Linked DNA regions of Homo sapiens. Changing the gene in region 1 together with any one later gene gives a genetic interaction. Each region holds a gene or a part of one and is shown in the gene's direction. Other genes may lie near its edges.

Evidence for each region. A genetic interaction does not mean that the proteins touch.
Region 2: changes in KEAP1 (region 1) and MED9 together harm fitness more than expected from each alone (negative genetic interaction), as found in Homo sapiens cells (one large-scale study listed by BioGRID).

The regions. Positions count from the first base shown.
Region 1 is NC_000019.10:10,493,272-10,496,923, reverse strand, and holds part of KEAP1 (kelch-like ECH-associated protein 1), read left to right. Parts: intron 1-3,652. UniProt on the Homo sapiens protein: Substrate-specific adapter of a BCR (BTB-CUL3-RBX1) E3 ubiquitin ligase complex that regulates the response to oxidative stress by targeting NFE2L2/NRF2 for ubiquitination.
Region 2 is NC_000017.11:17,483,395-17,487,046, forward strand, and holds part of MED9 (mediator of RNA polymerase II transcription subunit 9), read left to right. Parts: intron 1-3,652.

The DNA.
Region 1 (3,652 bases):
TGGTCTCGAACCCCTGAGCTCAGGTGATCTGCCTGCCTTGGCCTCCCTAACTGTGCTGGGATTACAGGCATGAGACACTGCGCCCACGCCCGCCCCCCACCGCCCAGTCCTTTTTTGTTTTTGAGACTGAGTCTGGCTCTATCGCCCAGGCTGAAGTGCAGTGGCAAGATTTCGGCTCACTGCAAGCCTCCATGTCCTGGGTTCAAGCGATTCTCATGCCTCAGCCTCCGAAGTAGCTGGGATTACAGGGGTGCACCACCACGCTGGCTAATTTTTGTATTTTTAGTAGAGACAGGGTTTCACCATGTTGGCCAGGCTGGTCTGGAACTCCTTACCTCACGTGATCCGCCCACCTCAGCCTCCCAAAGTGTTGGGATTACAGGCTTGAGCCACCACGCCAAGCCCCCTTTTTTTTTTTTTTGGGGGTGGGGGACAGAGTCTCACTCTGTCATCAGGCTGGAGTATAGTGGCATGATCTCGGCTCACTGCAACCTCCGCCTCTCGGGTTCAAGTGATTCTCATTCCTCAGCCTCCCAAGTAGCTGGGATTATAGGCATGTGTCACCATGCCCAGATAATTTTTGTATTTTTTGTAGAGATGGGGTTTCACCATGTTGGTCAGGCTGGTCTTGAACTCCTGACCTCAAGTGATCCGCCCGACTTGGCATCCCAAAGTGCTGGGATTACGTGTGTGAGCCACCGCACCTGGCCTTTTTTTTTTTTTTTTCTTTTTTTAGAGACAGGGTCTCACTCTGTCACCCAGGCTGGACTTCAGTGGCACGATCTCTGCTTATCACAAACTCCAGCTCCTGGGCTCAAGTGATCCTCCCACCTCAGTCTCCTGAGTAGCTGAGACTACAGGCGTGAGCTACCATGCTTGGCTAATTTTTATATCTTTTCTTGGTAGAGATGAGGTCTCGCTATGTTGCCCAGGCTGGTCTTAAACTCCTGGGCTCAAGCAATCTTCCCGCCTTGGTCTCCCAAAGTACCAGGATTACAGGCGTGAGCCACCACACCTGGCTACAAGAAATATTTATCCAGGGCTCTGTATACCCTAGAAGTAGCCTTACTTTGAGGTGGCCATTAATATAATCCCATTTTACAGAGGAGGAAAACCAAGACATGGAGCATTTCAGAGATTTGCCCAAGTTACACACCTACGAAGTGGTCGGATCAAAATTCCAACTCATGCTGGTTTCTTCGGAGCTTCCACTTTTTTTTTTTTTGGAGATGGAGTCTCACTCTGTTGCTCAGGCTGGAGTACAGTGGCACAATCTCAGCTCACTGCAATCTCTGCCTCCTGGATTCAAGCGATTTTCCTGCCTCAGCCTCCTCAGTAACTGGGATTACAGGTGCCCACCACCACAGCTGGCTAATTTTTTTGTTTTTAGTAGAGACGGGGTTTCACCGTGTTGGCCAGGCTGGTCTCGGACTTCTGACCTCAGGTGATCCGCCTGCTTTGGCCTCCCAAAGTGCTGGGATTACAGGTGGGAACCACTGTGCTGGCCCAGAGCTGTCACTTGTTTTTTTCCACAACATTCTATTGTGATTGCTTATTTTTTCCTTTTTTAGTCTATTTGCCATTTTAGAAAATGATTTCATTTTAAAAAACAAGATGGGTGAGTTGGCTCGTGCGTATAATCTCAGTGCTTTGGGAGGCTGAGGCAGGAGAATCACATGAGCCCAGGAATTTGAGGTTACAGTGGCACCTCTGCACTCCACCATAGGTGACAGAGCAAGACCCTGTCTCTTAAAAAATAAACTCAGACATCCCATCTCTACTAAAAATACAAAAATTAGCCGGGTGTGGTTGTGCGTGCCTGTAGTCCCAGCTACTCAGGAGGCTGAGGCTGAGGCAGAAGAATCATTTGAACCCGGAGACAGAGGTTGCAGTGAGCCGAGATCACGCCACTGTATCCAGCCTGACGACAGAGTGAGACTCTGTCTCAAAAAAAAAAAAGAAACAAAAGAGGCCGGGCGCGTTGGCTCACGCCTGTAATCCCAGCACTTTGGGAGGCTGAGGCAGGCGGATCACGAGGTCAGGAGATCGAGACCATCCTAGCTAACATGGTGAAACCCCGTCTCTACTAAAAATACAAAAAATTAGCTGGATATGGTGGTGGGCACCTGTAGTCCCAGCTACTCGGAGGCTGAGGCAGGAGAATCGCATGAACCTGGATGGCAGAGCTTGCAGTGAGGCAAGATCGTGCCACTGCACTCCAGCCTGGGCGACAGAGCGAGACTCCATCTCAAAAAAAAAAAAAAAAGAAACAAACAGAAAACTCAGAGGCCAGGCGCGGTGGCTCAGGCCTGTAATCCCAGCACTTTGGGAGGCCGAGGCAGGCAGATCACCTGAGGTCAGGAGTTCAAGACCAGCCTGGTTAACACGGTGAAATCCCGTCTCTACTAAAAATACAAAAACAAAAATTAGCCGGGTGTGGTGGTGGGCGCCTGTAGTCCCAGCTACTCGGGAGGCTGAGGCAGGAGAATGGCGTGAACCCGGGAGGTGGAGCTTGCAGTGAGCCGAGATTGCACCCCTGCACTCCAGCCTGGGCGACAGAGCGAGACTCCATCTCAAAAAAAAAAAAAAAAAAAAAGCCAAGCCAGGTATGGTGATGCACACCTGTAATCCTCAGGAGGCTGAAGTAGGAGAATCATTTGAGCTCAAGAGTTTAAGACCAACGGCCGGACACGGTGGCTCATGCCTGTAATCCCAGCACTTTGGAAGGCAAGGGGGTGGGCCACTTGAGGTCAGGAGTTCCAGACCAACCTGGCCAACATGGTGAAACCCCGTCTCTACCATAAAAATATGAAAATTAGCTGTGCGTGGTGGCACACACCTGTAGTCCCAGCGACTCAGGAGGCTGAGGTGGGAAGATCGTTTGAGCCCAGGAGTTCAAGGCTACAGTGAGCTATGATTGTGCCACTGCACTACAGCCTAGGTGACAGAGCAAAACTGTGTCTCAAAAGCAAAAACAGGCCAGGTCCGGTGGCTCACGCCTGTAATCCTAGCACTTAGGGAGGCTGAGATGGGCAGATCACCTAAGGTCAAGAGTTCAAGACTGGCCAGGCGAGGTGGCTCACGCTTGTAATCCCAGCACTTTGGGAGGCCGAGGCGGGCGGATCACGAGGTCAGGAGATCAAGATCATCCTGGCTAACACAGTCACCCCGTCTCTACTAAAAATACAAAAAATATTAGCCAGGCACGGTGGTGGGCCCCTGTAGTCCCAGCTACTCGGGAGGCTGAGGCAGGAGAATGGCGTGAACCCGGGAGGTGGAGCTTGCAGTGAGCCGAGATAGCGCCACTGCAGTCCGGCCTGGGCAAAAGAGCGAGACTCCATCTCAAAAAAAAAAAAAAAAAAAAAAGAGTTTGAGACCAGCCTGGCCAACATGAAGAAATGCCATCTCTACTAAAAATACATAGTGAAACTCCGTCTCTACTAAAAATAAATACAAAAAAATGGCCGGGCGCGGTGGCTCACGCCTGTAATCCCAGCACTTTGGGAGGCTAAGGCGGGTGGATCACAAGGTCAGGAGATCGAGACCATCCTGGCTAACACGGTGAAACCCCATCTCTACTAAAAAAATACAAAAAAACTTAGCTGGGCGTGGTCGCGGGCGCCTGTAGTCCCAGCTAATCGGGAGGCTGAGG
Region 2 (3,652 bases), on another chromosome or scaffold:
TTGGGTGGGCGGAGTCCTCCAGGCTGGCAGACCCTCCAGCCCCTCCACTAGAAGTGCCCACAGAAATGCTGCACAGAGCCCTGTGAACCAGAGCCTCTCCTGTACCCCCAGGGACCCACCTGGTTCTGGGAGTGCTCTGGCTGGGACAGCCCTGCTTGGAGTTGGAACCCATAGCACTTTCATCTCTTCTAGTGTCTTTCCCGCAGTTGAATGAAAAATTAAACTACACATTTATGTTATTTTTAAAGAATGAGGAAAGGGAGGCTGGGCACGGTGGCTCACACCTGTAATCCCAGCACTTTGGGAGGCCGAGGCGGGTGGATCACGAGGTCAGGAGATCGAGACCATCCTGGCCAACACGGTGAAACCCTGTCTCTGCTAAAAATACAAAAATTAGCTGGATGTGGTGGTGCACGCCTGTAATCCCAGCTACTAGGGAGGCTGAGGCAGGAGAATCGCTTGAACCCGGGAGGCGGAGGTTGCAGTGAGCCACGATCGCACCATTGCACTCCAGCCTGGCGACAGAGCGAGACTCCATCTCAAAAAAAAAAAAAAGAATGAGGAAAGGGAAAAGAAATCCCATTTTCATGCCTATAAGAAATATTATAAATCCCAACTTTGAGACTTTCTTGATATATATAGATGCTACATTTTAAAAATGCATCATAAAGGAGTAATGAAATGGGGTCTGTTAGATTGGGGAAAATTATTATTTTTTCCTTCAAACTTAACAAATTTGAATCTGAGTTTGGAATGAAGTAGCTCAGCCTAGGCCTTCTGAATTACAGTTGTTGCTGCCTTGCGTGATGGTTTTGGCTCACTTTGTAAGAGTAATCTGTCGACATTGGGTACTTTAAAAACATTTTTTAAATTCAATGTTTTAATTCTTTACAAGGTCTAAGGCTGCTAGGTAGGTAGAGGGGAGCCGTCCTTGCCACCACAGATGGGGCTCAAGTGATGAGCACGCTGTCTGGCCCCTCCAGCTTGGCCTGGCCGCTTCAGCAGGTCAGCAAGACCTCAGAGCCCCAGCCAGACCTCTTTTGTGGGAACAGGGTGTTATTGACTGTCTTCTTCCCACTCAAGTATCTATTTTAATCTGCCCTGGCCTTCCATGCCAGCTGAGACCCGTTCCCGGGTTGTGCAGGAAGCGGCCCCCGCTAAGTGCCCACACTGGCTTCCCGGGGATAGTCCGCATGCAGTTACTGCAGGCCTCTGCCGTTCACTTTCTTCTCCCTCAGCCACACCCCAGGGAGCAGGATGAGCAGCCACAGATAGGGGGTGTTCATAGACTGCTCAGATGAGGTGTTTCCAGTCTGCCTAAAAGCCTCTTCACTCCTCTGCCATGTCATTTCCATCCACTCAGTATGACTTATAACCAGAAGGTGGGCCCCAGCAGAGGCAAGCCCCACGAAGGCAGGCCTTCGCGAGTCAGCACTTCCTTAGTGGGCGTGAGAAATGCCAGGCAAGCATTTACGTGGGTCCTGGGAAGGGTGGGAAGCTTTGCCTAGGAAGGCTGGAAGCACTTGTGGTGGCACTGGGGGGGTCTCCTTCACAGTTTGAATTTGCCTGAAAGGTGTTATCTGTGGGTAGGAGGCCATCTGGAATTATTTTATTTTATTTTTTATTTTTGAAATGGAGTCTCACTCTGTCGCCCAGGCTGGAGTACAGTGGCGTGTCTTGGCTCACTGCAATCTCTGGCTCCCAGGTTCACTTGAATCACTTGATTTCCGTGCCTCAGCCTCCCAAGTAGCTGGGACTACAGGCACACGCCACCATGCCTTTGTAAAAAACAAAACAAAAAAAAATTGTATTTTTAGTAGAGACAGGGTTTCGTCTCTGTCTACAGGCACACGCCACCACGCCTTTGTAAAAATACAAAAAAAAATTTTTTTTTTGTATTTTTAGTAGAGACGGGGCTGGCCTCAAGTGATCTGCTGACTTCAGCCTCCCAAAGTGCTGGGATTACAGGCGTGAGCCACCGGCCGCCATCTGGGATTTTTAAGCAGCATAGTGACCTGCTCAGACTTGGGTTTCTAAAGGTAGGTGGGGCAGAAGTGTTTCAGAAGAGGGGAGGACCTGGGTCCACAGGAAGGCAGTGGCAATGGGAGGTGGCTGGTCTAGAGGAGATGGAGCTGGCAGGATGGTGGCTGGAAGAAGGGGGCACACAGGTGCAAGCCTGGGGGTCCTAGCGTGGCCAGTAGAGTGTGTAGGTGGGACTGCACCCTCCCCCCGTCCCCTGCTGACAGCAAGTCTATGCTGGATATTTGCCATCTGCCAGACTCCAGGCAGGAATGACTTGGTAACTGTGGAGGGAGGAAACTCAAGTACAGGAAGGAAGGCTGACTGGGGAGGTGGTCCCCGTGTCGAGGGTTCGGGAGTGGATGAACACGTTCTGGGCATTTTGTAGTGCAGTGATTTTCATACTCCGTTTAGCAGCAGCACCTTTTGTCACTCTTTGCTAAAAAGAATATTTTTTACATGTAATGCTGTTAGCAGATGAAAGCAAGGGTGTGAGTTCAAGGCCTCCCTCTCCGGAAGGCCTCATAGGTCTTGGCAGAACTGGAGCAGAGAAACACAGTTGATAGGTAAGTAGTAGCCAGTATCATCCAGGGCGGGATGGAGAAGTGTGTCCTCCGTGGCTACAGATAATCTACATCAGTACAGTTTTTTTTTTGGAGGGCATTTTGGTAATATCTGTCAAAAATTTAAATATATATAACCTTTGACCCAGAATCCCTACTTTTAGAAAATGATCTTACCAAAATACTTGCACAAGTGAGAGGTGACAGCGTGCTGGCAGTCCTCAGAGCCCTCACTTGCTCTCGGCACCTCCTCTGCCTGGGCTCCCACTTTGGCAGCACTTGAGGAGCCCTTCAGCCCACCACTGCACTGTGGGAGCCCCTTTCTGGGCTGGCCAAGGCTGGAGCCCACTCTCTCAGCTTGCAGGGAGGTGTGGAGGGAGAGGCGCGAGCGGGAACCAGGGCTGCGTGCGGCGCTTGCGGGCCAGCTGGAGTTCCGGCTGGGCGTGGGCTTGGCAAGCCCCGCACTCGGAGCAGCCGGCCAGCTCTGCTGGCCCCGTGCAATGAGGGACTTAGCACCCGGGCCAGCAGCTGCGGAGGGTGTACTGGGTCCCCCAGCAGTGCCAGCCCACCGGCGCTAAGCTCGATTTCTCGCCAGGCCTTAGCTGCCTTCCCGCGCAGCAGGGCTCGGGACCTGCAGCCCGCCATGCCTGAGCCTCCCACCCACTCCATGGGCTCCTGTGCGGCCCCAGCCTCCCTGACGAGCACCACCCCCTGCTCCAGGGCGCCCAGTCCCATCAGCCACCCAAGGGCTGAGGAAAGCAAGCGTACGTGCAGGACTGGTAGGCAGCTCCACCTGCAGCCCCGGTGCGGGATCCACTAGGTGAAGCCAGCGGGGCTCCTGAGTCTGGTGGGGACGTGGAGAGTCTTTATGTCTAGCTCAGGGATTGTAAATACACCAGTCAGCACCCTGTGTTTAGCTCAAGGTTTGTGAGTGCACCAATCTACACTCTGTATCTAGCTGCTCTGGTGGGGACGTGGAGAACCTTTATGTCTAGCTCAGGGATTGTAAATACACCAATCGGCACTCTGTATCTAGCTCAAGGTTTGTAAACACACCAATCAGCACCCTG